2 separate regions of the Homo sapiens genome follow, and region 1 is linked to region 2. The links come from fine-mapping of genetic effects on gene expression. A gene starts in region 2. The other region holds a variant in brackets. All regions are shown on one strand. Distances are between the middles of the regions. Region 1 has its middle 92 kb from the start of ADGRL2. Region 2 holds the start of ADGRL2 (adhesion G protein-coupled receptor L2).

Evidence for each region.
Region 1: its variant is fine-mapped to the expression of ADGRL2 in fibroblasts (GTEx, PIP 0.98).

What each region holds. Positions count from the first base shown.
Region 1 is chr1:81,703,621-81,714,941 of GRCh38, forward strand. It overlaps a transcript of ADGRL2 not described here. Among named protein-coding and RNA genes, the nearest start is that of ADGRL2, 92 kb to the right of the region's middle. The variant G/T (reference allele first, on the strand shown) is at 6,012.
Region 2 is chr1:81,795,929-81,807,249 of GRCh38, forward strand. ADGRL2 (adhesion G protein-coupled receptor L2) reads left to right here and starts at 5,006. Exons shown (of 24, transcript NM_001366006.2): 1 at 5,006-5,140. RefSeq lists an enhancer at 8,130-8,772.

The sequences.
Region 1 (11,321 bases), 92 kb before region 2:
CTTTATTCTCGTACCGAAGAAAAGGAAGAGCAAAATAATGTAAAACAATTTACAATGAAAATGGGTAAAAAAATGTAAGGAGAATGAAGAAATGGAAACTGGTTATTATAAAGTTTCACTTAAACATTAACTTGTGCCAAGGTTAAATGAGTAATGAGTCTGGACTTAGGATTACCTAACAGTCTCTAAGTTTACATTTTCCAATATCAGCCCACCAAAAGTAATGGGTTCTTTTGTTTGTTTGTTTTATTTTTAGTTTAGTGCTCTTGTATTCTACACTAAGGAAGGAAGTGTGGGGCAGATATCTGCATATGAAGTAAAGGAGGCCAATAAGCCACAAAAGAGCTTAGTCTTTAAGGAAAAACCCATCATCTCTCTGGAGCTACCCCTTCCCCCTGCTCATCTTTGGCCTTGCTGGTAACAGTAAATGTATTTATTTAACTACATGACACAAGCCTGTATGGGGATGCTTAGGCCTCCCTTCATCATCATACTTCCCCTCTTACACAACCCAGATTTCTGTTGGCTCATACCACCTGGGTGAAACACCAAATTCAGGGCAGCCATCTCCTAAAAACCAGTTAAATCTAATACCTGTGCATTACTTGGCAAAAAGAGAAGGCCCTAAAAGTCTGACTGTCTGCTTAATGCGTCTGGAATTACCATTAGCATTTAGGATAGGTGCATTCTTAGGCTTAGCTGGCTAGTCCGGTTTTCCTGCCTCAAGACAGAGCATAGCACATCAGTCACTAAGTGGCTGCCAGTGGACACAGGGCATCCCCTGGGAGCGGCGGGCCTGGATATGGTCTAACAGGGGCGCTGAGCATTGAGATTCCTGGAGAGATTAGTGGTAGTGGTATGTGGATGTCTGGGCCTTCAAGGACCAGATAGTAATCAGTAGGAAAAGGAACAACACAAAAATGGTCCCAGAATACTTCCAGCCTGCCATTTGCTGCTGCTTCCAATTTCCTTCTTCTTTGGTCCTCTTTCTCTGCTTTCCTCTTCCCCACCTTTCCCAGATCCCAAGTCTAAGGGTCTTGTTGACCAGGTAAAACAGTTTGTAACATGTGGCAAATAGAGAATGTTGAAGATTTTTAAACAAAGGAATGAAACTCACCTTAATTCAAAACCAAAGATATCTTGAGGAGCTACTTTATGTCAGGCACTGGAGTGTATGTAGGGGATTTGAAGATAAACATATCAGGCCTTTTACTTAAGGAATTCATCATCTAATGGAAAGACAAAACTGTTAAACTCAAATACTGGATGACATAGGGGTACTGAAGAGAGGAAACGAGGATGATGGCAGAAAAAGACACTTCTGCAGAAAAAGAAAAATACTGGCAAAGCAAATGTCTGAAGCAAATGCATGTAGATATGGGAATGCACATAAACATGAACAAAACAGTGTTGTTGTTTTCTTTTAATTTTATTTATTTATTTATTTATTGAGACAGAGTCCCGCTCTGTCGCCCAGGCTGGAATGCAGTGGTGCAATCTCGGCTCACTGCAACCTCCACCTCTCGGGTTCAAGCAGTTCTCTGCCTCATCCTCCCAAGTAGCTGGGATTACAGGCATCCGCCACCATGCCCCACTAATTTTTGTATTTTTAGTATTGGCCAGGCTGGTCTTGAACTCCTGACCTTGTGATCTACCTGCCTTGGCCTCCTAAGGTGCTGGGATTATAGGCATGAGCCACCACGCCCAGCCCTGTGTATTATTTTTCTGGCAGCAATGTATAATGTTGTTTGGATGCAGAAAAGCCTACAGGTGTGCATCACCATGCCAGGCTAATTTTTGTGTTTTTAGTGGAGACGGGGTTTCACCATGTTGGCCAGACTGGTCTCGAACCCCTGACCTCAGGTGATCTGCCCATCTCTGCCTCCCAAAGTGCTGGGATTACAGGCGTGAGCCATGCGCCCGGCTGGGAGCAGCTCTTAAACGGCAAAATTCCTGTAGCCAGGTCAGCCTGTGAAAGAACAGCAGGAAGCCAGCCTATAGAAAAGAGGTGAAGGGCTGGGCGCAGTGGCTCACACCTATAATCCCAGCACTTTGGGAGGCTGCAATGGGAGGATCGCTTGAGGCCAGGAGTTTGAGACTGGCCTAGGCAACAGCAAGATTCCACCGCTATAAAAAATTTAAAAGGTTAGATAAACATGGTGGTAGTCTCAGATATTCAGGAGGCTGAAGCAGGAGGATCGCTTGAGCCCAGGAGTTCGAGATTGCAGTGAACTGTGATCATGTGAGCTATATGCACTCCAGCCTAAGAGACAGAGCAAGACCTTATCTTTAAAAACAAAAATTTTGGGGCCAGGCGCGGTGGCTCATGCCTGTAATCCCAGCACTTTGGGAGGCCAAGGCGGGCGGATCACGAGGTCAGGAGATCGAGACCATCCTGGCCAACATAGTCTCTACTAAAAATACAAAAATTAGCTGGGCGTGGTCATGCACGCCTGTAGTCCCAGCTACTTGGGAGGCTGAGGCAGGAGAATCACTTGAACCAGGGAGGTAGAGATTGCAGTGAGTGGGGATCACGTCACTGCACTCCAGCCTGGTGACAGAACAAGACTCCGTTTCAAAAAATAATAATAAAAATAAAAACAAAAAAATAAAAAAATTTTTTTAAAAAGGGATGGAAAAGAGGATATAAATGGTCAAGAAACCTTAGAGGAGAAATTGACAGGGTTTTGCATATTATTGCAGAGAGACAGGAAAGCTGTCATACTTGACTTTAAGGTTTCAAACCTTGGTGATGACATTTTTGAAAAAATAGGAAACATAGGAGGGGATGTAAATGTGAGAGGGAAGATATCGAATCCAATTTGGACGTAATGAGTGTTTTAGGTGCCAGAGCTTGTCTTTCCAGAGAAGAGCAGTGTGCAGGTGGAAACCTGTATTTAGCACTGAGAAGACGCAGGGCTAACAGCAGAGCTGTGGGCATCCTCTGCAGACAAGACCCAAAGGATAGGTGAGATTGTCAACGAAAAGAGAGAACAGGTGAGAAAAGGGCTAAGGAACAAACTTTTAGATCACATACACATAGAATGCAAAGAGGAAAGAGACAGAAGTTGCAGTCACACAGTTAAAAAGAAAACTGAGAATGTCCCAAGAAAGGAAGAAAGGGTGGAGAGTTTCTGGAAGCAAGGCCTGATCAGGCATCAAGGAGGAGACACAGACAAGGAAGATGGAATATGAGAACATTAGCTGTCACAATGACTTAGTCATGGATGACTTTCAGGAGAGAAATTTCATGAAGAGATTTCTCTTCATAGGAAGAGAAGTCATAAGCTGGGTGATAAGGACTTACCAAATGGCTCTAATGTATTTTAATATTGAAACAAAAGCAAAGCATTAAGCTTTCTAGGGGTTTAGCCCTAAATTGGAGGAACAGAAGATAAGAAATAGGGACTACCTCAAAGGGTGAGGAAAGTAGTACAAATTTAACTTGGTCTGCCGCGCTATTTTACCCAACCAGAGGCCTGTTGTAATCCTGGTTTCTCTCAAGCTGTTACTTCCCATCCTCAAGTGAAGGTGGGTGGCGGTTAATGGGGAAAAACTTGATGACTAAGGTTAATTATCAGAAAGAAAAATTACAGTGTACAATTATCAGGGGGAAAAAAAGGATGACTAAGGCCATAAATCACAATCAGGCTCTTCCTACAATTCATGCTTAGGAATTAAAGGAATTTTCCCCTAAGAATGTCATCTCCACTCCACCCACTGTTCATGGCCTATTTTATCTCTTTGAATACAGTCTATCCTCATAGGAGAATGTGAAAATTTCTTGTTTTGTGTGGCCTGCCCATAGGAAAAGGCCTTGATGATAATCCTTTCACGTAAAAGTGTGTTCCTTGGCTTCTGGTGACTTTTAAAAGCTATAGAATTCTCACAAAAGCTTTGCTATCCATGTAGCAAATTCAGTGGTCAGTCTCCCTACCTTATTAGGCTTAGTTTAAAAGCCATGATAATCTGGACAATCCTAAATGAAGGTATATCTTTCCTCGGCTTTTGCTTGAATGTATGTTATTGTTGTTGTTGTTGTTGTTGTTGCATCCACATGTTGGATGCTCAGTGCTCGGTTCTACCCAAACCAATCTGATAACAAATACCACCATATTACCTGTGAGTAGAATATTATTTTTGCCCTATTCGAATACTTTTTTATTAGCCACCCACAGCTCCTCTTCAACTACATGCAGATACCCCTTTAAGAGTGCAGCTGAGGTGTGATATCTAGCTTGCTGGAAGAGAATATAATTATGTTTTTACCTAATAGGTAATCTCTGTGTTATCCAAGAGTTCTGTATGGGGAATATGAATTATCCATGTACCACATTAACAAAGCATTCAATTGCACTTAGCTTGTGTTCTTCTTTTCAAATATAAGTAGCTATTTTAAATGCCTACGCTTGTTCTCTCTTTCTTTTTAGTTGTAAGAATATCTCTGCCACTTACCTAATTTTTGCAAACTTTTTATTTTTGTGCATATATTTGTGTACATATACACAAACACATGCACACATACACACACATTCTAAAGCACTCAAGGAGGCACCTTCATAAACTTGCCTTGCACGGTTGTTGGTTTATCCGTCAAAGAAATCATTACCAAGAGAATGCCGTGCTTCACATGCTTACTAAATTTTTTAAAAATGCTTTTCATTATATTTATGCAAACATAACTTGGCTAGCTCATAATTTACCAAATTTAAGCATTTGTCAGGGTTATTTCCAATCACTCAGAAAAATGTGCCTTTGTGTATTTTGATTATTTAAAGCAATATTGTTTCCATTATGCATATCTGTTGCCAGAACAGCATGACTGTCTTGACTGAATGAGGAAGTGGGAATGCTCTTAATTTTCCTACACGCATCTGCAGAAGTACTTTTGATTGTTTAGCCAATGCACATATAATGATGTAGGCATAAATGTTTCTGCACACATTTTCCTTGGCACTTCAGAAGAGAAGGGTAATGCAAAGGGTAATTACATATACTATTGTTTGCATTAAAATTTACATATATATATATATATACACACACACATATATATATCCTAAATTGTAAGCTGAGGAAATGTTTAATATTTTGAAGCATAAAAATTAGGATGGACTCCTTCTATAGAAATCTCTGTTATGTGATCACATTTTATTTATATACTTCAGCTAAACAATTTCCTTTATTTTTTGCTTTGGGCTTGTATAAGCTTTCTACCAAACTCTAAAGTTCTTAGGGATCAAATAGTGCTACTCAAACTTGCTTACCTTGCCTTGAAACACATCAACTTACTTGCTCGTTAGATGGGTCCATTATTTTCCAAGGAGACAGGAAAGGAAAACAGACAAGGTATTAGAGACCACACTTCTGAATATGGTCTCACCATATAACTATAGAATCAAACATTTTCTTCCTAGGTTACTATAGTTCATCGAATCTAAGATGCTGTCAATGGTAAGATGTACCCTTATTTTATATTCTAAAAAGAAAAACTAAAACTCTGCCAATGAAACGATGATATACTACTGATTGAACAAGTTATCCTTATTTCAGAGAAGTCATTAGGGTGGTATAAAAGTAATTGTGGTATTTGCCATTAAAGTACTGCAAAAGCCGAAATTACTTTTGCACCAACCTAATGGGAGACAAGATCCATTTTACAATGGATAAAATAGGCTTTATGGAATAATTAGAGAGCTTTAGCTCTTGGGTATAGTATGTTAACTACATCAGCCAACTGAATGGTGCTCCTTTCCTGCAAGAGACTATCTCCTCTATTCAGTGAGACTAAAAAAATGTACCATGGATTCCAAATTGCTTCTGCTGTTTCCCATGTACAGAGTTATCAAGAAGATATTTTCTCTTTTAAAAGAGATGACTTTGGCTTGAAGGAAGCAGAATAGTAGTATAAAAAGTAAACACAAAAAACAAAACAAAAAAAACCTTAGTGTTTGGAGTTTATTTTTTTTTTAATTTAAACTTTATTCTTGTTTCTGTGAGTCCTTAGGCTATGG[G/T]TTGACCTAGCTGACACTTGATTTCCCTACTCACTGTTTCCTCAGTTCCCAGTTTTTCTGCCCATCCATCTCTCTTCTCCACACTATTAAGAGGCATTTGAAATTTTGAGGTGGGTACTAAGTATGCCTTAAAATATCATTATAAAACAATATTAAAAAATGGTCAACCAAGCTTTAAAAAAATTTTCGAAACATGTTAAAAACTATCCTATTCCAAACAAATTCTTGTAAAATGTATACATTAATAATGAAAGAAGTAAAGTCAATTGTTTGGCTATCAGAGAAGGGACTTATAGAGAAATAACTGTTTCCCCGTCCCCCTCACCAACTCAACTTGATTTAATTAGTTGATTAATCATGGCTGAACAACTAATCACCTGTGGTGTGTCTCCTTATCTGTTTTGGAAATAGGCGTTACAAGGCAAGAAACAAAGCTAGGGGGAAATATTAAATTGCAATTTAATTTATTTATCACATATTGCATATCAAGATATTTTCTAACGTGTCAGATTCTTCTGGCATTATAGGCAATATTCACTTACTCATCACTCATCCATCTGTTAAATAAACCCATATGAAGCACCTCACGAGTCTCAGGTACTCTGGACAGAAAGATGAACAGTGCTGCCTTTCTATAGCAGTGTTTCTCAAACTTTTTGAGCTAATAACCCATTTCTACTCTCAAAAATTATTGAGGATTCTAAGAACTCTTGTGAGGCATGGTGGCTCATGCCTATAATCACAGCACTTTGGGAGGCGGGCAGATCACTTGAGGCCAGGAGTTCGAGACCAGCCTGGCCAACATGGTGAAACCTCATCTGTACTAAAAATACAAAAAATCAGCTAGGTATGGTGGCACACACCTGTAGTCCCAGCTACTCGGGAGGCTGAGGCATGAAAATCACTTGAATCTGGCAAGTGGAGGTTGTAGTGAGCTGAGATCACACCACTGCACTCCAGCCTGGGTGACAGAGAGAGACTCTGCTCAAAAAATTAAAAAAAAAAAAAAAAAAGAACTTTTATTTTTTGTGAGTTACATCTCTCAGTATTTACCACGTTAGAAATTAAAATGAGAAATTTAAAAATATTTGTTAATTCAAAATTTATGAAGAAAATCAGCCTTGCACAGATACTAGATGCAAAAAAAGGAAGAATATTTTACTAGCCTTCTCAGATAAATGTGCTATTCTTCTTTGATATTGAATAAAACTTTGACAAATAGTTTATTAAAGGTTAGTTGCAAGGTGGAATCTGAAACCATATCAATGAACATTTAAAAATCTGCTGCATTAAAATACATTGGTTAATCTTACATTTTGGATAGATCTTTAACCAATATACTACATGCATGATTTTGTAACATCATGCATTGGTCATTTGGAAAGTATTGTTTCACTGAGTTATGTAGATTTCCCATATGTCAGCATATTTCATGAAACATTTTAAAAGGAATCACCACTGTTAATATCACCACCAAGCTTATCAGAAAAGTCTTTACATATTACGAAGCTGTCAAGTTCACAGTGACAGATACAAATTGTTCTTCAGGTTACAATTCTTGTCCGCATGTTTGAATTTTATCATTGGCAATAAGTACTGTTGATTGTTTTCCTTGAAGTGATTTGGCTTGCTTTCATTCATTGTTTAAAAAATATCTGCACAGCACCTAAATCTGAATAACCATCGTTTGTCTGTCAGTTGCTTTTTAAAGTAAAAATGGTATTTCATGAAGAGAGCAGCTATGTCAGGTTACAACTCAAACATTTATCTCATAAGTGCTTTTCCTCAAGACGGTCAGACTTCGGTAGTCTGTGAAAGTGCTTTTTGCATGCATCCATTTTGTCATATAGAATATTAAAGATGTATATTCAGAGATTTAGATTTCTTAAAATTAGCAATGATTGTTTTTAAAAAGACATACTTAAAATTGGTATTTTTTTGTTTGTTGTTTGTTTTGTGTTGTTTTTGTTTTTGTTTTATTGCAAGTGTGAGGTGGTTAAGAATATGACTATAGTGCTACATATGGTTTGGTGCCACAGTTTTAATTTATGCTAAGATGTTAGCAGTTTTATACACCAGTGCTTTCTATCATCATTGCAAATGTCAACAGAGTGAAAAAGGCAAATAATGTCTTAATATGATTTTGAAAATAGATTTCACTTTACAAATCCCCCTGAAAGGGTCCAGGGACCCCAGAGGATCTGCTGACTTCACTTTGGGAACCTACTCTAGAGATTCAAAGGTTAAGGGAGAAGATAGATTAATGAACATGAATTTTCAGTGGTTTGTAATAAGTACAATGATAGAGGAAAGCAAAAAAATATTTTCAGAGCACTCTAAAGGAGAATATATCTGAGTGTGATCCTGAAGGACACCCAAGTGTCCGCCAAGTAGAGAAGGAAGTCTTTGGCTAATCGAATCCTGTGCCTGGGACTATGATTTCTGTTTTCATTTTACCAATGCTTTGTAAAGTGTAAAGACATCTCAACCATATGGTTTCTATATGGCAACTGGATTAAAAAAATATATGCCCAGTCAAGTAAGGCCATTAATAGACAATTACCACTAAAGGTTGAGTTACTATGGGAATTTGGAAGGAAGGACCTGGATGGTTGCATGAGATTCCATGTTGTATTGCATAGACATTTGTATGTGGTAAGCCAGATGTCATCTTTCAAGTACTTTTGGGCTCTGAGTCCCAATAGAAATAAATTCAAATCGGTCTTCATCGATGTGACCTGACATGATGTCATTGAACTATTTTAACTAACACTGAAAAAAGGTGAAATTATTGACATGGATTGAATTCCTAACATATGACTTGGTGACCTTACAGATATGATTACATTTAATTATCAAACAATTTAATGGGTATCATAATATCCCCATATTTAAGACCGAGACACTGAGGATCAGAGACATTAAGTAATATGCCAAAGGTTACAAAAGCACACAGTGTGCAGAACTGGCTTCTAAGCCAGCTGTGTCTAACTGGGAAATCCCTGTTCTTTCTCCAACTGGGATATATATAACTAGGAACAGGCAGAGTTATATTAGGTGTAAGATAAGCCTCAGAAAACACACTGCCTATCATGCTGGAGCACCAATTTACCTGGATCGCGGATTTTTTTTTTTTTTTTTTTTTTTTTGAGACAGAGTTTAGCTCTGCTGCCCAGGCTGGAGTGCAGTGGCATGATCTCAGCTCACTGCAGCCTCCACCTCCCGGGTTCAAGTGATTCTCCTGCCTCAGCCTCCTGTGTAGCTGGACTGCAGGCATGCACCACCACGCCCAGCTAATTTTTTGTAAATAGGGACAGCATTTCACCATGTTGGCCAGGCTGGTCTCAAACTCCTGACCTCAGGTGATCCGCCCATCTTGGCCTCCCAAAGTGCTGGGATTACAGGTGTGAGCCACCATGCCCGGCTTGAGAGTGGATTCTTATAATATTTTTTAAATTAAAAAACCCCGATATATAATGAAATGGAATGAAAATCATTTGAAGATGGAGACTTCCAAGGCATTCCATCTTGAGAGGGAAGGACCTAGGATCTTCCTGGAGCATCCAAGAGTCAGAGTTCATAGTCCTCTGCATTGAGGGAACTTTTGAGATACACTCTGAGACGTGCATTTTTATGTCAGACAAACCAGTGTGTTTTGCCCAGTAACTAGACCAAATGCTGTTCAGTTAGTATGCCAAGCAGTCTAAAATTGCTCCTAATTCCTGATTGTTGTGGGTATAATACACATTTCTAAGCATGTTTCACAGATGTGACATCAGCATGTACCAGAAGAGGTAAGGTTAGAAGGGAAGAAACGATTAACTCTAATATTTACCAACAGCCACTAATGGCCAATGATAGTGATGATGATGAGAATGAGTGTGATGAAAATGATATTTTTTGAGTATCGACCATGTGCTGAGCACTCTGCATAAATTCATCATCTTAAGTAAACTGCACAGCAATCTTGTAAGTTGATCTTATTGTCCCCATTTGTGTATGTACCCAGACATAATACTATGCATTTGTGTTATCTCAACAAGTCTGTGAGCTATTATTATCCATATGCTGCTGATGAAAAATTGGTCTCAGAGTGGATAAGTAATCGCCCAAGTTTATACAGTAAGTAAATGATGGAAATATGCAAAGACCCTGAGGGGCTTGTCTCAAAAGCCCTAGATCATTCCATGCCATGCTGCCTTGATATTAGGTAGAGATACTGTATTAATCTGTTCTCACACTGCTAATAAAGACATACCGGAGACTGGGGAATTTATAAAGAAAAAAAGGTTTAATGGTCTCACAGTTCCACATGGCTGGGGAGGCCTCACAATCATGGCAGAAGGTGAAGGAGGAGAAAAAGCGTTTCTTACATGGCAGCAGGCAAGAGGGTGTGTGCAGGGGAACTGCCCTTTATAAAACCATCAGATCTCATGAGACTTATTCACTATCACGAGAACAGCATGTTATAAGCCTCCTCTGATGATTCCATTACCTCCCACCAGGTCCCTCCCATGACATGTGGGGATTATGGGAGCTACAATTCAAGATGAGATTTGGGTGGAAACACAGCCAAACCATATCAGATACCTATATAAGTTATCATTTAAATTTGGATACTTTTGAAAGTAAAAGTGGATACTATTAATAATTGTGCCAGAGCAAGAGATATAAATTAAGATTGCCTCAGAAAATAAGGAATAAATTGTTACCTCACTATTAGGCAAAGATAGAGGCTGAGTGGTATCAAACTTCTTAAAAATACATGCATCAAGGTATTTCTTTATTTTAAAATACTGACTAATCATTTCACCTCAAGCAATCTTTTATAGTATGGGGCAGGGCAGGGAGAAGGCATATATGTATGCTTAATACTCAAGAAATAATTTTTACCTAGCAATTTATAGAGTAAAAAACATGCATCATTTTTGATACATTTTTATACACAATATAATAGAAGTCAGGCACAAAACTCTAAAGGGGATAAAGAAGATTTAGAAAACCCTGATTCAGTATTAGAAATTAATGAATGTGGTACTTACTATGTGCTGAAATATTATAACTTACTGATCAAGGGGAGAGAATTTTGAGAAGTGTGCTACATACTTGAATAGCTCCTATTTCAGAAATAATCCTGTAACAATAACTTGAGACAGTTTTATATAATTGTGGCAGGTAGTCACTCCACATTGATTCAAGTACAGGTTTGGGCATGTTTTGTTTTTTTTTTTCCTTTTCTTTTGTAGTTGCTTCTACTCAATGTATCATAGGTGTAAGTCCTTAATTTCTTTCCAGTAAAAGAAGAATAGC
Region 2 (11,321 bases):
GTGGTGGAGGTTTGTGTGCACTAAAAGGGGATCAGGAGGTATTTTATTTTTGTTTTGTTTTGTTTTGTTTTTTGAGACGGAGTCTCACTCTGTTGCCCAGTGCCCTGGCTGGAGTGCAGTGGCACTATCTCGGCTCACTGCAACCTCTGACCCCCAGGTTCAAGCAATTCTCCTGCCTCAGCCTCCCGAGTAGATGGGATTATAGGCGCCTGCCACCGTGCCCAGCTAATTTTTGTATTTTTGGTAGAGACGGGGTTTCACTATCTTGGCCAGGATGGTCTTGAACTCCTGACCTTGGGATCCACCTGCCTTAGCCTCCCAAAGTGCTGGGATTACAGGCGTGAGCCACCACACACTGCAGGAGGTGTTTTTTTAAACCACGTACTGTTAATGAGAAAACAAGGTTATGAGTATTTATGATGGACAAAATTACTAGAAGTTATAGACAGCTTTGTATAAAATTAGTGTTCTTTTGCTTACACTTTGTGATCTGACAGAAGCATTGATAAAAGACCTATAAGACCCAACTATATAAAATTCTCAAGATGCAGAGATTAATGAGAGTTATAGGAACAATCTATGGGAAAGAAAAACTTTGAGTTGTTTAAGACTCAGTGGAACAATAATTATGAAGAATATCGTTTTAAATTTGCTTACTTTTGAGTATCATAATGGTAACGACATAAAAATTTCCTAAATCTTTATATACAATTATGCATATATTAATTAACACGTGTGGTGCACAGAAAAAGTCATGTTACCAGTTGAACTAGTGGATGCTTTTTTTAAAAAGTATTAATTACCAAATGACAGCTATTAATAATTCGTGATTATATACTTCTAAATTATACCATTAAACACAATATGCCTTAATTATATTTACATTATACTTTAAACTGTCATTACTTTTGGAGACTGCATCTCTACATTTTGGATAGGGTTTGGCCTTCTTGGACAAAATTTGCTAAGCCTATAGAGCAGGGAGAATAGCTAAAACCTTACTGGCTTTGCCAAATGCTTTCATATGTTTTTGCTCTTACGGAAAATGAGTTTTGATTTCTTTTCAGCCTACATGCATGGCAAGGCAAAAATTGAAAACAAAGCTAGCAACTTTCAACAAGTTCTAGTTAAGTTTGGCATTCATATATTGCTCTGATCTGCTCTAGAGCTTTAATGTAGTTTATTTTCTAGAGTAGGAAAAACTAGTTTCAGCACCAAGCATCATCAACAAGTAATGATGAAGAAAATGGAACTGAGTTAGGTTTAGGATATAATCTAGCTAATTTTATTTCTATTTCTGAATTAGAAATGAGAGTCATTCCACGTGTTTTTTGTTTCTTTTGAAACAATTTTGAAACAATTTTCTTTTGAAAACAAATTTTGTTTCTTTTGAAACAAAATTAGAGTTTCACAAACTCTAATCACAGGCAAAAATACACTCCCCATAATAGATACAACCGTCCCTCCTTAATAGTTTTCTATAACTGTGTTGCTCAAACTTAATGGCAGTTTTTGGCCTACTCTCAAGCCTCAATACCTCTTCCCTTCAACCCCTGACCCTTTTAGAAGTGTCTTAGCTATAGCCATTGGCCAGAGTAGGGCAGTGAAAGTGATACTGTGTTCTATTGGCTTACACTAATCACAATATTCTGCACCTATGTCCATTTTCATACTATTTCAGATTCTTTGTTACTCAAACTGCTGTTATTCTTATGTATATTTTAACAAGTGCCTGATCACTTCCCTATAAACAAAGATACTTAGATGATAAATCTCAGTTTAAAAATTAGCATAACGTCTGTACCAGAAATATATGAACCCACTGAATAAAATAATCTTCAGTTTCTTAAGGTTACTAAAATTAAAAACATGAGTTTCTACAGTTGGAAAAAACATGTATGGTTAAAATGTTTGAAGCCCATCAATCTCTCTAACCACATAAGCTAATGAGTTCCTTCTGTTTTCTTTGAATGAAATCACCATGAGTGGTTATATGTTGATTTAACATAAAACAAATGGAAATGGGTGTTTCCTTTGTCCTTTGTAGAATTTATTTTAAAAAACAATTAGCAACTATTATGAATAAGTCAATGATTTTGCCATTACTTAAATAACAATATAGATTGAGTAATTAAATTGATTGGATTGCAGGGAATGCGTAACATACTCCAACTCTCCTTAACTTGCACACATCTGTAGATATTATTAAGCTTCTCATTTCATTTTTTTCTACCATAACACCTGTATTGTTATAAATTATGTTATGAATTGTCAGAGAGTGCCAGGTAAATTATGTTTTTTGAATGTAGATATACTCTATGGTGTGTGCCTTTTAAGTGTTCCTTTGTAATGGCAGGTTTGTGGCTAACAGCTTAATCTTGAATCTAGCAATATAATTAAACACTATTTCAATTCTTCTTTGTGGATATACAAAGAAGGTTGAAGTATTACCTCTAAAGAATAAAGAAATAATTAAAAATCTTTAATATTTAAAACATTGTCTTACACAAGCAGTATTCTTAAATGTAATTTTAAAACATAGCAAGTCTATTATATTTTTAGGAGAAAAGTGTGGAACTCTTTGAACTCTATAGAATACACATCCTATTGAAATAAGATTTGAAACTTCTATGGGGCATTTTTCTAGTTTGTATAATTTTAATTCACTTTTGATAAATTCTTCCCCCTTCCAAGCATCCTCCTTTTTTGTGATATTGTCTCTTTAAGAATACAGTGAAGAGTGATTCACTTATGTCCTGAGCATCAAAGAATGTCAAATATATCATGCAGATAGATAATGGGTTTTTCCAGAGATTATTTCTGAGAGAGTTAAATAAATAAGTAAATGAGCCAACATATGGCCAGCTTAATTCAGGCAAAAATGTCTATTGATTACTTACTAAGCTCACTAAATAAAAACTTCAGCCTAAGTTTTGCTTCCCAAAAGAAAATAGGATTAGACTGATGCATGCACTCATTGGGGCTTTTGTGAATGGTGCCCAGATGAGTGAAAACCTTCAAAGATGAACAAAGAAGGGCTAAAATATTTTGGTAAATGCAAGTTACTATCAGTTTGACTTATTCTCTTTTGCAATCCTGAATGAAATAATTTTATATTCCTAAGAAGATCATAAAATTACCTCTGAGGTCTGAGAATTAGATAATTCTGCCTTCTTTTCAACGACTTGAAGTAGCCTGATTTAATTTTGCTAGGTAGATCTGTTGTATGTATGTATTTTGACATATGTAAAAACTTAGGTACGTTATAAGGTTTTGCACCAGCTCTGCATAAGTGTACTTTATCCAGACTAGTTTATATCCTGCGTGGTTAATATTTGAATTATGTTATGTAAGAAATTCCAGATGTAAGTGTGTATGTAGTTTAAAGCACCAATGCTCTAAGTTGCTCCTTTTATCTTTTGAAATAGTGAGAATATTAAAACATCAATACATCAGGTAGAAGAAATTAGATTATCAAAGGTTCTTTTTTAATCTGAGAATTACAATGAAACCACCAAAAGAACATGTTCTAGTTATTTGGACACACGTACATTTAACCTATGATTTCCTACAAGTCAAGAACAAACTTGACCAGTAGTTGGATTGGATTTACTTTAGTACTACACCTATCTGGCTTTCTGACAAAATACTGATAGGTATTTAGGATCTTCATGTATTTTGAACAATCTGCTGTTGACATATTAATAACATTGTTTGGAATGATTCCTGAAGTATGATGCTTGCAACATTCCTGCAGCACCAAAAAGTACCTATTGTTTCTGAAAGCAAAGCAGCTTAAGTTTTATCCTACTTTCTAGGTTTTAAATATTGGAGAATCATTTTTTTCTTGAAAAAAAGGTAAATATGCTTATTTAATTGATGGCTGCATTCATTAGTAGAATCAGTGGTTTACAAATACATCTGAAAACATAGCTGCTTCCAGCTCAGAAATTTTGCAATAAAAAAAAAATCCATGTTTGAATTTTGTGGCATGCACAGGACACTTAACTGGCTTTTAAACGTTTTTCCAGCGTGATTCGCCCTGTCCTGCTCTGTTCCTTTCAGCTTAGGTCCATCGTAGGCTCTGCCTGGCTGTTTGCTGACATTGCCAACCGAGAGGGGCAAGGAAGTGTGTTCAGAGGACAAGAGCAAAGGCAGTTTCAATGTAAGGAAATGAGGGAAACAGACCTAACAGCTCTGTGACTATACTTGAGAGTAAAGAGCCTTGTAGTCTCCTTTCCTTCCTTTGCTTATCCTGGTGAGTTTAATCAAAAACAAACAAAACGCTCTTGTGAAATATAGTCAATAAAGTCAAAGTTTAGCTGGCTCTACGTAACTACAAAGAAAAAAATCATCGCAATTTAAAAAAATGTAACTTTCATTAACGAGCGCGCCGGAAATCTCAGGTATCAAAGACGCATTAACCCTGGAGCGTCCCCCGCGCGCCGCAGCCGGACGGAGGCAGCCGCGGCGAACAGACGTTCTTTCTCCTCCATGCAGTTACACAAAAGGAGGGCTACGGAAACTAAAAGTTTCGGGGCCTCTGGCTCGGTGCGTGGAGAAAAGAGAAAACCTGGAGACGGGGTGGGTGAAAGACGCATCCCGGGCGCCTCTCCGAAGTCCAGGCCGGGAGCAAGCTCCTGGGCCTAGAGGGGAGGGGGCCCCGAGCCGCTGGTCATCCCCCTGCGCTCAGCCTCGGAGCGCCGCGCTTCGCGGCGCTCTCCCAAATACTCTTCACCCACTCCAGAAATAAAATAAATGTTTTTAAAGTGCATGTGTGTGGACAGGATGGAGAGCGCGCGCCGGCGGAGCGCGCGGAGGACCCAGCGCGCAGTGAGTGGAGTTTGGGGGTGGGCTAGGGGTTAGCGGTTGAATGGGTGTGTTAATGGGGGGAGCTGGAGGCAGAGCTCGGGGACCTGGGGGTAGGGGGAGCGCGAACCGACTGGGAGGGGAGAGAAGGGGAGGGGCGCGAGCTGGCGCAGGCCGCCTCCGGGGCGCGTTCCACGGCCGTGCGCGCGCGTCCCTCGCCGCCACCGCCGCCCGGACAGCCCTGCGGCCGCCCCGCCGGCGGAGCCGGGGCCGGCCTGGTCCTCGGGCGGCTGCTTGGCCACCGCCACCGCCGTCCGAAGGGCTCGAGCCCGTAAGTATCCCCTTTCGCTCCTCCTCCCCGCCGCTTGGGCGCACAGCCGCAGCAGCTGCTCAAATGGAGTGGAAAACGGCCATTGGGCGACAATGAGTTATAGATTATCTGCTCCACGTTTTGTACTTAGCTGCCTGTAATCTTCTTTTGAGTTTGCCCGAGCCCCTTGCTGGAAAACTCAGGAGGGAGAGATTTGTCCTTTGACGCTGTACACGCTAGTATGTTTATATGATTAGCCCAACTGGCGGGGAGGGCGGATTTGGGGGAAGGAGGAGGAGGAGGCTGGAGGTGACTCCAGTTCAGACCTCGCGGAGAGTCTGTGTCAGGACTTCGCATTCCCCCGTCTCTCTCTCTCTCCCTCTCGCTCCCTCTCACTCTCTCTCCGCTCACACACACGCAGAGGTGCTGGGGCGAAATCGGGAGCTTACCAGAGAATTCCTTGGGATTGTTGGGGGGCATCTCCCCTCCGCTGCTGTGTGTGGCGTGGCTCTTCCCGGCTACTCCTTGCTTCCCCGAGCCCGAGTCTGCGCCGCCAGCCTTCCTTGGGGCAGCGGCCACCGCTCAGCCCCGGCCGGGAGATCCGAAATGTGAGGAGGGGTCGCCGCCGCCTCCCGCCCCAGGCCGCAGGGTCGGCGCGAGGGATGCTATTCCGGCCGGGCGCTCGGGGGGCTGAGGGGCTTCGCCTGACAAACTGAGTTGGCCTCGCGCCCCCGGCGCCCTCCCGCCCGTCGCTTCGAAGGGACTCCCAAGTCTGCGCACCTCTGTCAGGCTTTTGCTTCCACCACCCCTTTCGCTCTGATTCCCGATTTTTTTTTCCTAAGGGAGCGTGCGGTCTGGGGGTGTGTGCGTGTGTGTGAAAGACCTCTCTCGAAGAGCGGCGTGTGGGAAACTGCGGGAAAATGTTGACTTAACCCCAGGAGCCGCCCGGCGCTGGCTGCTCGGCTGGAGGCGGCGGCGGCCGAGCAGGAGGACGCGCCGAGCTGCGGCGCCGTGTCCGGCCGGGGAGCTGCGGCGCTGCCTCCCGCGCGGACTCGGCGGCCGAGGACCCGCTCGCGGCCGGCCTCGGCCCTCTCCGGCCGGGGTAGCCGCTGCCCTCCGCGCCTGTCCCCGCGCGGCCCCCACGCCAGACGGCCCTCCCTCGGGGCGCGCTCGCAGACGGAGGTAAGAGCCGCAGGAGCGAACAATGTGCCTCTGTGCCCAGCTTCGGAGACCTGTTTGCTTTGCGCCTCCAGTCCGGGGGTGGATGCTGGAGGCGCAGGGAGCCGCGGGTTAATGGGGCTCGGCTGTTGCTGTTCGGCTGGCCCAGGGGGAGACCCGCGCTCGCTCGGGCTGCTCGCTCCCTCCCCCCAATCTCCTCTTGGAAATCGATCCGCAGAACTCTCAGTCCGGTCCAGCCGGCTTCTCCTTTTCTCGTGGAGCCATTGTAACGCTCTCCAGGCATCAGTCTAGTTGCCGGGGGCGCTGGCAAGGGGGTTAGGATGAGGCTCCCGTAGCCATGCATTTTTTAATTTCATAAAAGCTTGGGGTCGCAAGGTTCCGCCCGTCCTTTCACTGGGGGCCTGGGGAGGAGGAGTGTGAAGCGCGTCCTCGGCGGAGCTTATTTGCTCCGGGCGCTGGGGCCCGGGGCCACCCCAGCGTCCCGCCCGCTTTGCCCTCCGGTCCCGCACTGTAAGTGGAGCGGGGAGGCTGAGCGGCTGGAGCGAGTTCGGGGGAAGTGGACGGTGGGGGAGGGCTTGGACGAGTTTTTGAGGGTTGCTGTTCCTTCTCGTCAGTGGTTAGGTGGTGTGGGGAGGCGAGGATGACAGTAAAGCGCAGCCAGATGTGGTCGGGCCGCCGCCGGGACTGGCTACGATTGGGAGCGGCGGGGCTGCTGCTGCCAGGGCGGCCTCGTGGGTCGGGAGGGTGCAGGGGCCGGGGACCCGGCGGGCCACGGGGAGGGCAGAGAGCCTCCCGGAGCCGCAGTGAGAGGGCAGCAGCGGGCCGCGTTGGGCCTGCGGGAGAAGTTACGGAGTGTATGCTGCTGGAGTGGCTGTGGGGCAGGGAGCCTCGGGAGCTTGGTTTGTGGGATGGGGGTGCCACTGGGGAGTGGCGACGAGAGAAAGGCGTGGGAGGAGCGCGAGGGAAGGGGAGACCCCCGCGCTGCCCGAGCGTGGGCTCCTTGATTGGCTGGGGCGACCCTCAGGCAGAGGGGGCGAGGGCGAGCCAAACCATGGAAGCGCCCCAGCAGTGTGGAGGTGCGCCTGCGAGACTTCTGCGCTTGGGACCCGTAAAGTTTGTTCCTTTCGCCAGACTGCGGGGTGGGGGTGAGGGGAGAATACTGGAAGCTTTACTTAATGCTAAAGTGTCGCTGAGTGGAGGCTTTTTTTCCCCCCCTCCAATCCTCTGTTCACTCTGTGCTCTCAAAGAATAGTTGGGAGGGACAAGTCCTGCGGTATCTATCATAGCCTTTCTCTTTTTAGGGACTCCTCCTCCTCATCTTTTCTCCCTCTCCCCGCCCTCCATTCCGTTCTTCCCGATACAAACTGTTGTCTCAGATTCCGACCGAGGGAATGTTTTCCTCCTGTTTCTTGAAAGGTGTCAGGCTGCTTAGCAGCTTCTCCCAAGCAGCCTGGGAGCGTCTGAGCTGCAGCTACCAACCATATGGTTCCCGTTACAAAGGCCAGGTTCTAAGGCACTCTCTTCCCCACCCCGCCCTCAATTCTTTGATTTTATTCTGCATTCTTTCAGTACGTGCACTTCTCTTCCCCTTTCCAGAGGCATAGATTTAACGGACGTAGTTGATTCATTCATTTCTCTGTCACTATTTATGTGTGGAACGGGTCCCACCGAGTTTGCTCTTTGCTCAACGAAGTTGCACAATGAAGAAAGTCACATCCTTTGGTAAATAATTACCTGTTAGGTTGTCTCTTGCTAAGTCAGGTTTGATCTTGGGCAAACCTTAGAAAATAGGCACTAAAGAGGCAATATGCATCCAGAGCAGAAAAATAGAATAGTTTTGGTACTCATCTGTGGCAACATTCCAACTTGTGATGGGACTGTTTTGACCTAACTAAGGGTACTTTGTAACTTTAAATTTTGTATCTTCGTAATACTTGAGAAACCCTTTAAAAGAAAATTTACTTCTGTCCAGGTGTGTTATGGAACGTTTTGTTGTCTCTCCCTCCACCCTTCCATAAATTTATGCATAATAGAAAGAATACTACAGAACAAATGTTCTGTTGTTTAGTTTCTTCAGACATTCCGATTCTCTCCTTTTGTTGTTTGCCTCTAAAAGAGGTGCCATTTCACATCATTCTGCACAAATTGTTTGAATTAATGCAAGTGTGAATTCTTACCGTTTGAAGGGGACTATTAGCATATCAAAGGTTTCTTAGCTTTAGCTCAATTGAGAAAACTTCAGCCTGTCTTCCTTTTGCTTCCAAGCGGAGGCCCAAAGGGCAATGAGAATTGTAAAGGGTAAAAATAGGGAGGTGGATTCAGGCTGTGTTTCTGAACTTTTACTGTTTTGTAGTTATGTGGGCCAAAAACATTGTCTATTGCTGTGGAGCCCTTGCAAATGGCAAGACAATTATTTTCTATTGATAAATGGTTTGTTCCTAGAAAAAGAGTGACCTTTTGTTTTATGATAGTCACTGTTGCCTGTCTTTTGGGGTCCCTTCAGTGTAAGAGAGAGTGAGAAAGCCTTTCCTTCTAACTTAATGCTTTTTTAGGAACTACACTTTGTTTTATTAGTAAAATGAAAAGGCCACTTAATTAGTTTTTAATTAGTCTCTAAAACAATAGAAATTTTGTGATTAAAAGACTCATTTGTACACGTAGGTAACTGTTTTTTATGTGCTAAATAAATAGGGAAAAAGTCAGCGGAGGATGCTGAAAATTAAAACCTCAAATGAACTTGACACAACTTCTGTTGCAAAAAGAAGCTTGGAAAAGTTTTTTTTAAGTGAAGATTCAAATTTTTGTGAATTCTATTTAAATAGATAATTCTGTTTAAATATTGTTTTGTTTCAAAATTTTTGTATCTTGTCAAACAGTAAACTCTAGTATTCAGTTGGTTTATTTTAAAAAATATAGTTTATTTGTTCTTGCTTTTTTATGTTTACAGAGAGAACATATCTTTGAATTTCTTTTAACAATTCAATATCCATGAATGAAAAAAAGAACAAGTGCTTGGGTCATTTGGGTTAGTTATCAAGTGCAGATGGGTCAAGGGGGAACTTTTATCTTCAATTTCTTGGGAAGAATTAGTTTTATTTATTTGACTTAAGAATTTACAAAACTTAATTCTAAGATGGAAATGAATTTCAGGGGAGACTTTTTTGGAGATGTAAGCTCATATTTTTTATAGTTTTACCTTAGATGTTTGGTTGCTTTTGAATATGAATTGATAACCTTTCATTTACTAATGTTCAAACTCCTTGCTTTTATTTTATTAATGAAAATGAATTCCAATATAACAATTTCAGAGGGGAAAAACTATCATTAATTGCCTAACATTTTTAGCTTAAGTGTAATCGGATGATCCTTTTTTTTTGGATTACAATTAGGGTTTTTTTTTCTGTGCCATTGAGATTGTATATCATTATATCCTTACCCTGAAATTATTTTATGGTAGTTTATTTATCTGATCCCTTCACTTGTCTAGGAAGTACTTTAGTGGTTAAAAAAAAAAAAAAAGGCCACATTGATGTAATTGCTATTATTGCACTTAAGTTGCTGTTAACTAGTCTGCTTTGAATGCAGAGTGTTATAAAGAAAACAACATTATCCTTTACAGCTATTAGTGATAATCTAAAAATTGTCTTGAAAACATTGCTCTTCACTTTATGTGAGGGTGATCTTGAATTCAGTAAATCTCTAAAGGTGCAAAATGTAGTGAAAAGAAGATTTTTCAACATTTAGATGACAAAATTGGACTACTTAGGGAAAAATTAATGTGTTGTAGAAGAACTTCAGCTGCCATTTTCAATCACTGGGTTACTATGTGTTGGCAACAGAAAACGAATTTAGAAATGGAGATAGCTCTGGGAGCAGGTAGTTGGGGAAATCAGAATATTGAATCATGTGGGGTAGAACAAACCAATTACTTCAAGTTTTGACTTGAGAATTTCCAATAAGTATAATTTTTTCCAGGCTTTTGACTGTCTGCTTTATTAATGGACTAACATCAAAGCAGGCAACAAAACTTCCAAATGTTATAAAAACTAATGTAAATATACAGATCTCACATGCAGTAATACAAGTCTAAATTTAAGACAAACAGTTGGGGTTTTTACTGCTGCAATTTTCACAATCAGCAGAAACATTAACACCAGGCTTCTGGGTGTTTCCTTTTTTGAAATGAGCTAGAAGAGAGCTTTAAAACTAAGGTTTACTTAGGGTTAATCTTTATTTGATCATTATTGAAGCTTTCTGTGTTTCATTAAATTTAAAATAGCGTTTTAGTATCTTAATATAAGAATATGTGAATTGAGATTGAGATGTCATGAAGGTCAAGAGGTAACTAGAAATCTACAAACCATAGTAATAAAATGTTATTGCTTTATTTTCTATCAAAATATTTATTTGACCTCACTTTTGTGAATATTCAAATAACACTCAGTTTATTGACAGTTGTAGGTGGAATTCTAAGATGTAGGTTAAACATACTTGTACCTACCTAAAAGAAATCTGTTTTCATTTTAACAATCCATACCGCTTGCCCAATGCTGATATTTAAGAACATAGATTAAGGGTTACTTAGATTAAGAATGAAAGATAGCTTTGGAAATGGAGGAATTTAGTTTCACATAAGGTGCTATTTTTACAAAAGTTTCTTCAAAGACTGTAGCACTTTTGCCTCTTACTGTTTCACCATATCTGATTTTGAGTCTTGAAGGGAGAGATGCGCATTTGATGTCTGTCTGCTTTTCTGCAGAAAAGATTTATGTAAAAAATAAGTGCAATTATTTTTAAGGTAATATATTTTGCAAATAAAATGCATCGTTACAAAAAAATGGTTCTTCAAGATTATTTGCAAAAATGCCTAGCTAAAAACTTTTCAAATTGATAGATTTCGATAAAGCATTAAAAATAGCAAGTTTAGCTACTAAGAGCTGAAAAGGAGTTGAAGTTCTGTGAATGTTTTGGTCATATCAGTTCCTATGGATTAAATATGAGTTAATGTAACCTAAATGGATAA